Regions from separate parts of the Homo sapiens genome. Here region 1 is linked to region 2. The links come from fine-mapping of genetic effects on gene expression. A gene starts in region 2. The other region holds a variant in brackets. All regions are shown on one strand. Distances are from middle to middle. Region 1 has its middle 34 kb from the start of DDX59. Region 2 holds the start of DDX59 (DEAD-box helicase 59).

Region 1 (5,385 bases), 33 kb after region 2:
CATGTAGCAATATATTTGCTAGCATTTTTTTTTTAGTTCATTCTGTATGGCAGGTGCCTAAGCACTTTACATGTAACAATTTATTTAATTCTCACAACAACCCATGAAGTAGGATTACATTAACCACTTGGAAATAACGAAACATATCAACACATGCTAGCTTATCTTTGGTCTAAAGAGGGAATAAAAACTGAAATTATAACTGGGAGTGGATATTCATCAAAGTGCACTAATACAGGTATACTGGAGTTAATGGCTAACATCCATTCAACTGGTAGGTTCCTGCACAAAACACTGGTTGTTAAACATTTTTAATATAACCCCTATTATAAACTATCTAAAGAACTTTGAAGAGAATACTTCATAAAAATAGCTTGCACTTTATACAAAAATTACATCAAAATGGATTTCAGACTTAAACATAAAATTTAAAACTATAAACCTTTTTGTAAAAAAGTAGGAGAAAATCTAGGGAATTTAGGGCTAGACAAAGTTCTTATACTTGACACCAAAAGCATGAATCATGAAAGGAAGAATTAATCAATTGGACCTCATCAAAATTTAAAACTTTTGCTCTGCCAAAGCCCATGTGAAGAGGATGAAAAGATAAACTACAGATTGGGAGAAAATATTTTCAAATCACAGATCCGACAAAAGATTAGCATCTAGAATATATAAAGATCCTTTTGAACACAACAGTAAAACACCCAAGCAACTCAGTTAGAAAATGTGCAAAGACATGAACGAACATTTCACTGAAGAGGCTCTGTATAGCAACTAAGCACATGAAAACATGCTCAACATCATTAGCCATCGGGAAATGCAAGCTAAAACCACGATGGGATTTAACTACAAACCGGTCAAATAAAATTTAATAAATTAAATAAAATGAATATAAAATAAAATAAAATAAAATTTAATCAAAGCTGGAACAATTCGAGCAACAAAATAAAGTAGTATTGAATTATAGTAAAATAGTGAAAACACCAAATGCTGGCAAGGATATGGAGAAATTGGACCACTCATATTTTGCTGGTGGGAACGTAAAAGGGTACAACCACTCTGGAAAACAGTTTGGTAGTTTCTTATAAAACTAAACAAGCAATTTACCATACCACCCGGCCATTGCATTCTTGGGCATCTATCCCAGAGACATGAACATTTATATTAACACAAAAACCTACACATAAATATTTATAGCATTTTTATTCCTAGTGGCCCCAAAACTGGAAGCAGCCCACATGTCTTTCAGCAGGTGAATGATTAAACAGACTGTGGTATATGTTCATTGTAGCATTATTCACAGTAGCCAAGATCAACCTAAGTGTTTACTGATAGATGAATGGATAAAGAAAATGTGGTATATACACAGAGTGGAATACTGTTCACCCATCAAAACGTTGGAAATCCTGTCATTTGCAACAACATAGATGAATCTGAAGGACATTAGGTTAAGTGAAATGAGCCAGATACAGAAAGACGGATACCACAGGATCTCACTTACATGTGGAATCTAACAAAGTTGAACTCATTGAAGTGGAGAGTAGAATGGTCGTTTCCAGGGCTAAAGGGGTGGGGGAGATTGGGGAGATGTTGGTCAAAATATACAGAAGTTCATTTAGACAGGAGGGATAAGGTTTCAAGAGACTGTACAACACGGTGACTATAGTTAATAATATATATTGTATACTTGAAAATTGCTGCATAGATTTTAAGTGTTCTTGCCCCCCAAAAATGTGTCTGTGAGATAATACATATGTTAAGTAGCTCAATTTAGTCATTACACAATGTATAGATATTTCAAAATATCATATTATACATACAAATATATACTTTTTATTTGTCAATTTAAAAATGTTTAAAGTTGTGGTGTATACACACTATGGACTAATACTCAGTAATAAAAATGAACAAACTATTGATAGATACAATAATTTGGATTAGTCGTCAGGGAATTATGCTGAGGGAAGAAAAGCCAAACCCAAAAGGATACGTACTATATAAGTCCATTTATATGACATTTCTGAAATGAAAAAAATTAAGAAATAAAGAACAGTTTAGCAGTTGCCAGGGGTTAAGGACAGGGGTAGGGAGGTTGGTGTCATAAACGAGCAACATGAAAAATTACTGGGGTGGTGAAACTTCAGTATCTCGACTATGATGGTGGATACACATGGAATAATATTATACAGAACTAAATATACACACACACACACACACAGGCATACACAAAAATCAATACAAGTAAGGAAAACTGGGAAAGCCTGAATAAAATTGGTGGATTGTACAATGTCAATATCCTGGTTCTGATATCGTCCTGTAGTTTTCCATAATGTTACCACTGGGGAAATTGGGCAAAGGGTACAAGGCATCTCTCTGTATTTTTACTTATAACTGCATGTTAATCTATGATTATCTCATTACAATTTCAATTAGAAATAGATAGCTTCTAAGTTTTTATTTTTATTTATTTTTTTGAGACAAGGTCTCACTCTTGTTGCCCAGGCTGGTCTCAAACTCCTGAGCTCAAGCCATCCTTCCACCTCAGCGGGACTTTCCCAAAGTGCTGGAATTACAGGCATGAGCCACCGTGCCTGGCCTGAACTTTTAAAATATTTCAAAGGGCATGAAAAATGAGAGAAATAAATGCCATCTGTTATTGAAGACATGTAGCTATAGGTGGACTGTCTATCCATCTG[G/GA]AAAAAAAATACAGTCAGACCCTGTGTCTTATTATGCAAATTATACCACATAAATAGAAGAAGAGATCATTAGCTTCATCTTTTATATATGTTTGTACCATGTAATTTTACTTGTTATTGCAAGCATGGGTTACTGCTGTAATGTTCAAAAAATCAAATGGAGAATTTTTTTAAGCCAAGCCCAAGTTTTTCCCTTCAATACGTCAAATGTTTACCACAATCTGCATGGAGTGCACATATCAGAGGAATATGCTAAATGTCCATTTTGGAGACAGTATACAGTCACATATTGGCTTAAAAAATTACTTTAGGCTGGGCATGGTGGCTCAAGTCTGTAATCCCAGCACTTTGGGAGGTCGAGGCAGGTGGATCACCTGAGGTCAGGAGTTCAAGACCAGCCTGGGCAACATGGTGAAACCCCGTTTCTACTAATAATACAAAAATTAGCCAAGCATGGTGGCACATGCCTGTAACCTCAGCTACTCCGGAGGTAGGAGAATCCCTTGAACCTGGGAGGCGGAGGTTGCAGTGAGCCGAGATTGCACCATTGCACTCCAGCCTGGGGCAACAAGAGCAAAACTCCATCTCAAAAAACATAACACAGAAAGAAAATAATACTCAAATTTAGGTGCACAAATATGTATTTAAGTTCATCTTGAAAGAATATTAGATAGCGACTGAAAAAATAAAGCAAAGCAATGCTCCCTAATGCAAAGCAAGAAAGAGACTGACTCAGTGTGGATGGGAATATGATGCTGCCTGTAACACACAGCAGCGACTATTCAGGCCTGTGGGCACTACCTGTATTAACTCAGGCAGCCACAGCACCAGGCAGAGCCAAACTCATCATTTAAGACAGTTTGCTGAGGCCTGTAGGAAGACCACCAGGGCCTTAGGCAAATTGTAAAACAGAAAAATTTAAGTGTATTCCCTTTCCTTATGTCTTCCCCTTCCTCAGACTCCCATTGCCCATGTCATTGGATGTGGAAAGAGATTTTCTTGTCTGAAAATTTCAGCACCAGCCTCAAAGCTGTGGATGACAGGTGACAAATGCCCCTGTGTTCAAAAGAGAGATGTTAGATACATTCATGCAAGACTTACTAAAAGGTGACCAAACCGATCTTTGTTTTTTGTTTTTTGAGACATGGTCTCGCTTTGTCACCCAGGCTGGAGTGCAGTGGCCACATCACGGCTCACTGCAGCCTCAACCTTCTGGACTCAGTGGATCATCCCACCTCAGCCTCCCAAGTAGCTGGGACTACAGGCACGCACCACCATGCCTGGCTAATTTTTGTTTCTTTATTTATTCATTTTGCAGAGACTGGTCTTGCTTTGTTGCCCAGGTTGGTTTTGAACTCCCAACTTCAAGTGATCCTCCCACCTTGGCCTCCCAAATGTTTGGGCTTACAGGCATGAGCCACCACACTGGGCTCCTGATCTTTAATAATCACTACTATTACCCATCTCCAAGTTGGTAAGAAAAGGGGAGATTTATTAATGAGCTTCTTGGTAGTAAGAGAATTCGTATAATTAGAATGCCTTATTAACATGCTTCCTCTCCCACCAGCAAGTCAAAAGAAGCAGTTCCACTTGGAAGGGATCCAAATGATCTACTTTAGAGATCGGCGCTATCTACAGGAGAGGAGACTGGCATCTCATTTTTCCATCTGGAAGCTGGATGTCTTGCTGCCACAGTGAAATACAGGAGCATTTTGGGGAGAAAATGTCTTCAGGAAATTGTGTTATACAAGATAAAAGTAGAGACTAGTGGCTTAACTCTCCCCTCATAGGGTGGGGGCCTAGCTAGAGTTGCCCATGGCATCAGACAAGATTGTCTAACAAGCCAGCCCAGATTCTTAAGAATCACTCCTTCCTCTGAGTTCCATATTGCTGATTGGCAATGAAATAAAATATTCTGTCTCTGTAAGCACCCTCAGATCACAAAACCTAATTTTCAGTTGAAAAATGTGGTCACCCTACATCTAGTCTTTCTCATTTATGTCACCATTTATTTTAATGTTTATACCCTACATGTCACTACAAATTCCTTGACAGCAGGGTTATTCTTCTTATTATTTGTCTCATTATATCCCCAGACTTAGCATGCAGTCGATTCTAGGTAAATATTTGTTGCTGGTGTTTATGTTGCTGATAATTCAGTTCTTTCTTTTCTGCAGTCCTTCTCACCTTCTTCCTGGGGACCTCTCCCTAATACTTATTGCCCTTATGTTAACTTCCTTTTTCTTTTTTTTTTTTTTTTTTTGAGATGGAGTCTCGCTGTGTCGCCCAGGTTGGAGTGCAGTGGTGTGATCTCAGCTCACTGCAAACTTCGCTTCACAGGTTCAAGCAATTCTCCTGCCTCAGCCTCCTGAGTAGCTGGGATTACAGGCGCCCACCACCACGCCCGGCTAATTTTTATATTTTTAGTACAGACAGCGTTTCACCATGTTGATCAGGCTGGTCTTGAACCCCTGACTCGTGATCCACCCGCCTCGGCCTCCCAAAGTGCTGGGATTACAGGCATGAGCCACTGCGCCTGGCCACCCTTACATTAACTTCCTAATGAACTGGGAATCAAAACTACAGGCTTACTGTTTTACCAATGATCTGTGGCCCAGATTTCTGAAAATGCTATGTTCCACTTTCTCTGTTTTAAAAATGGGAACAACAATATATTTTTTTCTGT
Region 2 (5,385 bases):
TCTATTTCCGTTTACTGATTATTTGCACTTTGAAGTATCAGATATTATAGAAATTCTGGGGTAAATCCTTCTATTATAGCATCAAAAAAGAAAACAGGAGAAATACTTCACAATTAGAATCTTTAAAATCAAAGCCACAAATCATAGAGAAAATGCTATTTTCATAAGTAACACTTAGTGTTTATTATATGCCAAGCACAGTGCTTCACCTAATCTTCACAACCATGTAAAGCAGTTAGCATTGCCTAATATATATATATACAGATATTTTTTCATTATGCTATACTAGGTATATTACATAGAGTAATATACACAAGACTAATATACATAGTATAGCATAATGAAAAAATAATATAGTAATATACATAACATAGCATAATGAAAAAACGTGTGTGTGTGTATAAAACACATTATATACACTCAGAAGAAACTGAGCCACTTAGAAATTAAGTGGTTTGGGCTGGGCGCAGTGGCTCACGCCTGTAATCCTAGCACTTTGGGAGGCCGAGGCGGGCGGATCACGAGGTCAGGAGATCAAGACCATCCTGGCTAACACGGTGAAACCCCGTCTCTATTAAAACAAAACAAAACAAAAAAAATTAGCCGGGCGTTGGCGGCAGGCGCCTGTAGTCCCAGCTACTCGGGAGGCTGAGGCAGGAGAATGGCGTGAACCCGGGAAGCGGAGCTTGCAGTGAGCCCAGATCGCGCCACTGCACTCCAGCCTGGGCAACAGAGCAAGACTCCGTCTCAAAAAAAAAAAAAAAGAAAAGAAATTAAGTGGTTTGTCCAAGCTCACACAATTCTTAAGTGTTACAACCCTGGCACTGTGGATCCAGAGCACAAGCTCTCAACCATACGAGGACTAAGCTCTAATTTTTTATCTTACCCAAATTCCTTTCTAAGGGGTCTGGAGAGTCATGCCCTACAAACCATAAATTCTCATCAGATGGGTTTTATTTAACCCTGTATATCGTGACTTACTTTCCAATCTGACTCTGGCCTAACAAGGAAGAAAATAAAAATGTTTTACCCCAAAATATATTTCCTTGTCGTACCTTAAAACTCCCCTGCAAAGTCTCTTGCAGGAAAAATCTGCATTTGGTGAGAATTCCCATCTCCCCTTGTTTTCCCTCCTTCCTTCCCAGATCCAGGAGATAATCAACTAAGAGCCAGGCACCCTTTTAAGTCCAATATAAAACAATTTACAACCTGCTCTCTCTAAAGTCTATCTAAGAGCTTCCTCTGCACAATAAAACTTGGTCTCCACAATCCTTTATCTCTAGCCTGAACATTCCTTTTTATGGATCCCAGGTCTTTAGATAACCTCAACCAGATAACGTTTACATTTACCGATTGAGTTGCCCCGCCTTTCTAAACTAAACCAATGTATTTCTTAAATGTATTTGATGTCTCACGCCTTCCTAAAATAGATAAAACCAAGCTGTACCCCAATTTCCTTGGGCACATGTTCTCAGGACCTCCTGAGGACTGTCACTGGCCATGGTCACTTGAATCTGGCTCAAAATAAATCTCTTCAAATATTTTTCAGAGTTTGATTCTTTTCATCAACCCATATCTATACCTTTTTACACCAAAAACATGTCTTTGCAAAATTACAGTTATTGGGAATAAGGCTTTTAACCTAATCTGGGGACTATCAAATATACTAATAAATATTTTTCTTAAAAAAATTCTTTGTTTAAACTGCCAGATTCCAACTTCCAGAAAAATTCCAACAGAAATGCAACCGAGGGTCTAGAATTACTATCCTAAATCTCCGAAAATGTACAGGGGGTGGCGGGCGGGGCAGGGACGGCTCTAGGTGAGCAGGAAAAAGCTTGGAACTCAGTCTTCCAATGGCGAAAGGGAACGTGCTCCTGCTGGGCGGGACGGCGGACGGCTGGCGGCGGCGCGGCCTCCAATTCTCGCCAACGCGCCCCGCACCCCCGTGCACTGGCGGGCCCTCCCCTCGGGCGTTGCCTCCCACCCACGCCCGGCGGCACCGCACCCCGAGGCGCTTCACGTCACGGAGCTGCTAGGAGACGGGCGGGGCTCCGGTTCCGGGTAGAGGCCTGGGACACGGGGAACTGTAAGGATGGGAGGAAGGCCGCGCAGGGGCACCAGTTCTGCCGCCGCGGCCTAGCGCCCCAGGTCCCGGAGAAGGGGCACCAGGGCGGCCAGGGGCCCAAGCTTCCGGGGCACGCTCACCCGCGCAGGACTGAGGCCGCGTCCGCTCCCGCTCCCGCTCGGGCCGTCTCCCCCTTCCAGGCTCCAGGCCAGGCTTCCGCCCGACAAGCCCTGACCCGCTCGTCAGGACTGCGGCCCGGGGTTGGTGGTGCGGAGCGGAGCGGAGCGGAGCGTAGAGTAGAATCCACTTCCCCGGGTTTTGGGAGGGGGCCGCAGCCCGCTTTCCGGGCGGCGGGGAGGCGGGGCCACCGCGGGGGCGGAGCTCGGCTGGGAGCCGGCAGTGGCTTGGGAGGGAGGGAGGGAGAAGGAGAGGGGCGGGAAGGCTCCTCGCGTTTTCCACGCCCCCGCCCAGCTCTGGGCTGGTGGTAAATCTCGGAACTGGTCCGGGCTGGGCGAGTTCTGGACGGAGGGGCACGTTTGGGAATCCTCTTGGAAGAATTTACGTAATCGAATGGGCTGGGACTGGTGGAAAAGAGTTGGACCGTCCGGAAAGAAGCAGGAGGGCGGCGCGGGGGCCTGGCACCCTTAGAAAGTGGGAAGTGTGAGTGTAAAAGGGAGGGGCACTTCTGCCCGTTGGGCCCAAAAACCCTTTTCTGGCTTTAGCTAGTAGAGCCACTCAAAATTTAAACGGAGTCAGCTTGATGTGGCATATATGATAAGCTGGATAATATTTCCTGCACCACCGCACCCCTCCCCCCACCCCAACACCAACAAGAAAATAACACAAGTCACGGTTCTTGTTCCTTGTGGGCTGACATTTCCCTGTTTTGCCAACCTCTGGAGCCACGTGTCCCAAGCAGCTTGTAGTTGAGAAGTGATGGGGGAGAGGAGACAGCACGGGAGAGGAAGGAGGGAAGCCAGCTTATATTCAGGTGCCTTAAGTATTTAAAAATATTTTCAGTGTAATAGTCGATGCATTCAAAAGAGCATATTTACCAAATATGTAAAATTTAAAGTATGCTAATGAAACTATCACTCCACCACGTTATCAGTATTTAGCATGTATCTATGCATCTCCAGGATTCTACTCCTGGCCTCTTAGCTCACCACCACTATCTTCAGTTTTGTCCCTCTTTGCCATTTTTAGTGGTTTTATCATATTTGGATGCATTCCTGTGTATTGGTGTATTTTTCTTCTTTTTGAGCTTTATAAAAATACATATAGCCTGGAATTCGCTTTTTATCACTCAACATTTGTTTTTTTGGTTCATCCAAGTTGTTACGTGTAGTAACAGAACATTTATTTCTTACTGCCTAGTCAAAAGGAAGTTTTCTCCTGTCAGGAATGTATTCAATACTGTAGCGGATAGGATTATAAATGCACTTTAAGTATTTTCTTTATTGATGGGAACCACACAGACTAAATGTATCAGACTTCCCAAGTTCGTAGGTCACATACCTATAACAGAACTCTTTTCCTGGGTTTTGTGACATTTCTAATTGTTGTAATTTCTTTTGCCATTATAAAAATTAGTCACTTTTGAACCTAATTTGTATTCATCATTCTGAATCTTTTTCTTTAAAAGCCTCCTCTTTTCCAATTATATAAGCTCATACCCCATAAAACCTGAATCTGCCCCTAGTAATTACTAATAAGGCTAGTAGGAGCATTCTTGTTCACCTTCTGTGCATGCGCTGGACTCTAATTTGAACCTAGGATTAGCACTGCGGCATCAGAGGCTATGGGGGCTGTTCAGCTTTCAAAGATAAAGCAGAAATGTTTTCAAAGTGGTTGTACCAATCTATACTGCCACCAGTACCGACCACAATTCTCTCTAAATCCTCGTTATTTTCACACTTCTTACTTTTTGCTAGTCTACCCAGAATAAATACCATGTTTTTGTCTTAATTTGCATTCCGTAATTACTGATAAGGCTGAGCACTTTGAAATATGTTATTCATTCATGTTTTCTCTTCCTCTTCTAAGGATGTGTGTGTGTGTACATATATAAATGTATATATAATGTATATATGTATATATAATGAAACATTCTTTTGTTAATTGTAGGTGTTGCAGATATCTTCTCCCTGTTTATAGTGTGTTTTCAAATAAAAAAATTTTTTGACTTATTTTGAAAAAATCAACCTTATCAAAAAGTTTCAGAATTAATGAACTCCTGTATACCCTTCACATAAGTTCACAGTTTGCTATATTTGCTATATTAGTGTGTAGGAGAGATTATATATATAAAATATGTATACTATAGATATATATTTTTTTCTGAACCATTTAGGAGTAAGTTGTAGCATGTGTCTCCAAAGACAATGATATTCTCTTTTATACTCACAGAAAAATGTTCCAGTTGAGGTTGTTTGTTTTTTGAGACAAGGTCTCACTCTGTTACCCAGGCTGGAGTGCAGTGGTGCGATCTCGGCTCATTGCAACCACCTCCCGGGCTCAAGTGAGGCTCCCACCTCAGCATCCCGAGTAGCTAGGACTACAGGCACACCCCACCTGTTAGAGAGAATTTTTTTGTTGTTAGAGATGGGGTTTTGCCATGTTGCCCACGGTGGTCTCCAACTGCTAGGCTCAAGCTATCCACTTGCCTTGGCCTCCGAAAGTGCTGGGATTACAGGTATGAGCCACTGGGCCTGGCTCAAATTTAGGTAGTTTAACATTGATGAAGTAAGAGTAGCTAGGACTACAGGCACACCCCACCTGTTAGAGAGAATTTTTTTGTTGTTAGAGATGGGGTTTTGCCATGTTGCCCACGGGGGTCTCCAACTGCTAGGCTCAAGCTATCCACCTGCCTTGGCCTCCGAAAGTGCTGGGATTACAGGTATGAGCCACTGGGCCTGGCTCAAATTTAGGTAGTTTAACATTGATGAAGTACGAGTAGCTAACATGCAGTCCTTATTGAAAATTTACTAGTTGTTCCATTAAGGTGTTTTAGAGCTATTTTTTTCCCCTAATCCAGGATTCAGTCCAAGATCTTTTCATTTTCTTTATGAAGTGTTTTTTTTTCTCTGTTTTTTTTTTTTTTTTTTTTTGAGACGGAGTCTCTCTCTGTCGCCCAGGCTGGAGTGCAGTGGGGCGATCTCGGCTCACTGCAAGCTCCGCCTCCCGGGTTCACACCATTCTCCTGCCTCAGCCTCCTGCGTAGCTGGGAGTACAGGCGCCCGCCACCACGCCCAGCTAATTTTTTATATTTTTTAGTAGAGAAGGGGTTTCACTGTGTTAGCCAGGATGGTCTCGAT

What was found.
Region 1: its variant is fine-mapped to the expression of DDX59 in vagina (GTEx, PIP 0.97).

What each region holds. Positions count from the first base shown.
Region 1 is chr1:200,700,877-200,706,261 of GRCh38, forward strand. No RefSeq gene overlaps it. Among named protein-coding and RNA genes, the nearest start is that of DDX59, 34 kb to the left of the region's middle. The variant G/GA (reference allele first, on the strand shown) is at 2,700.
Region 2 is chr1:200,667,559-200,672,943 of GRCh38, forward strand. It overlaps DDX59 (DEAD-box helicase 59), which reads right to left and starts at 2,349. Exons shown (of 8, transcript NM_001031725.6): 1 at 2,209-2,349. DDX59-AS1 (DDX59 antisense RNA 1) reads left to right here and starts at 1,949. Exons shown (of 3, transcript NR_110787.1): 1 at 1,949-2,064. RefSeq lists a silencer at 1,763-2,502.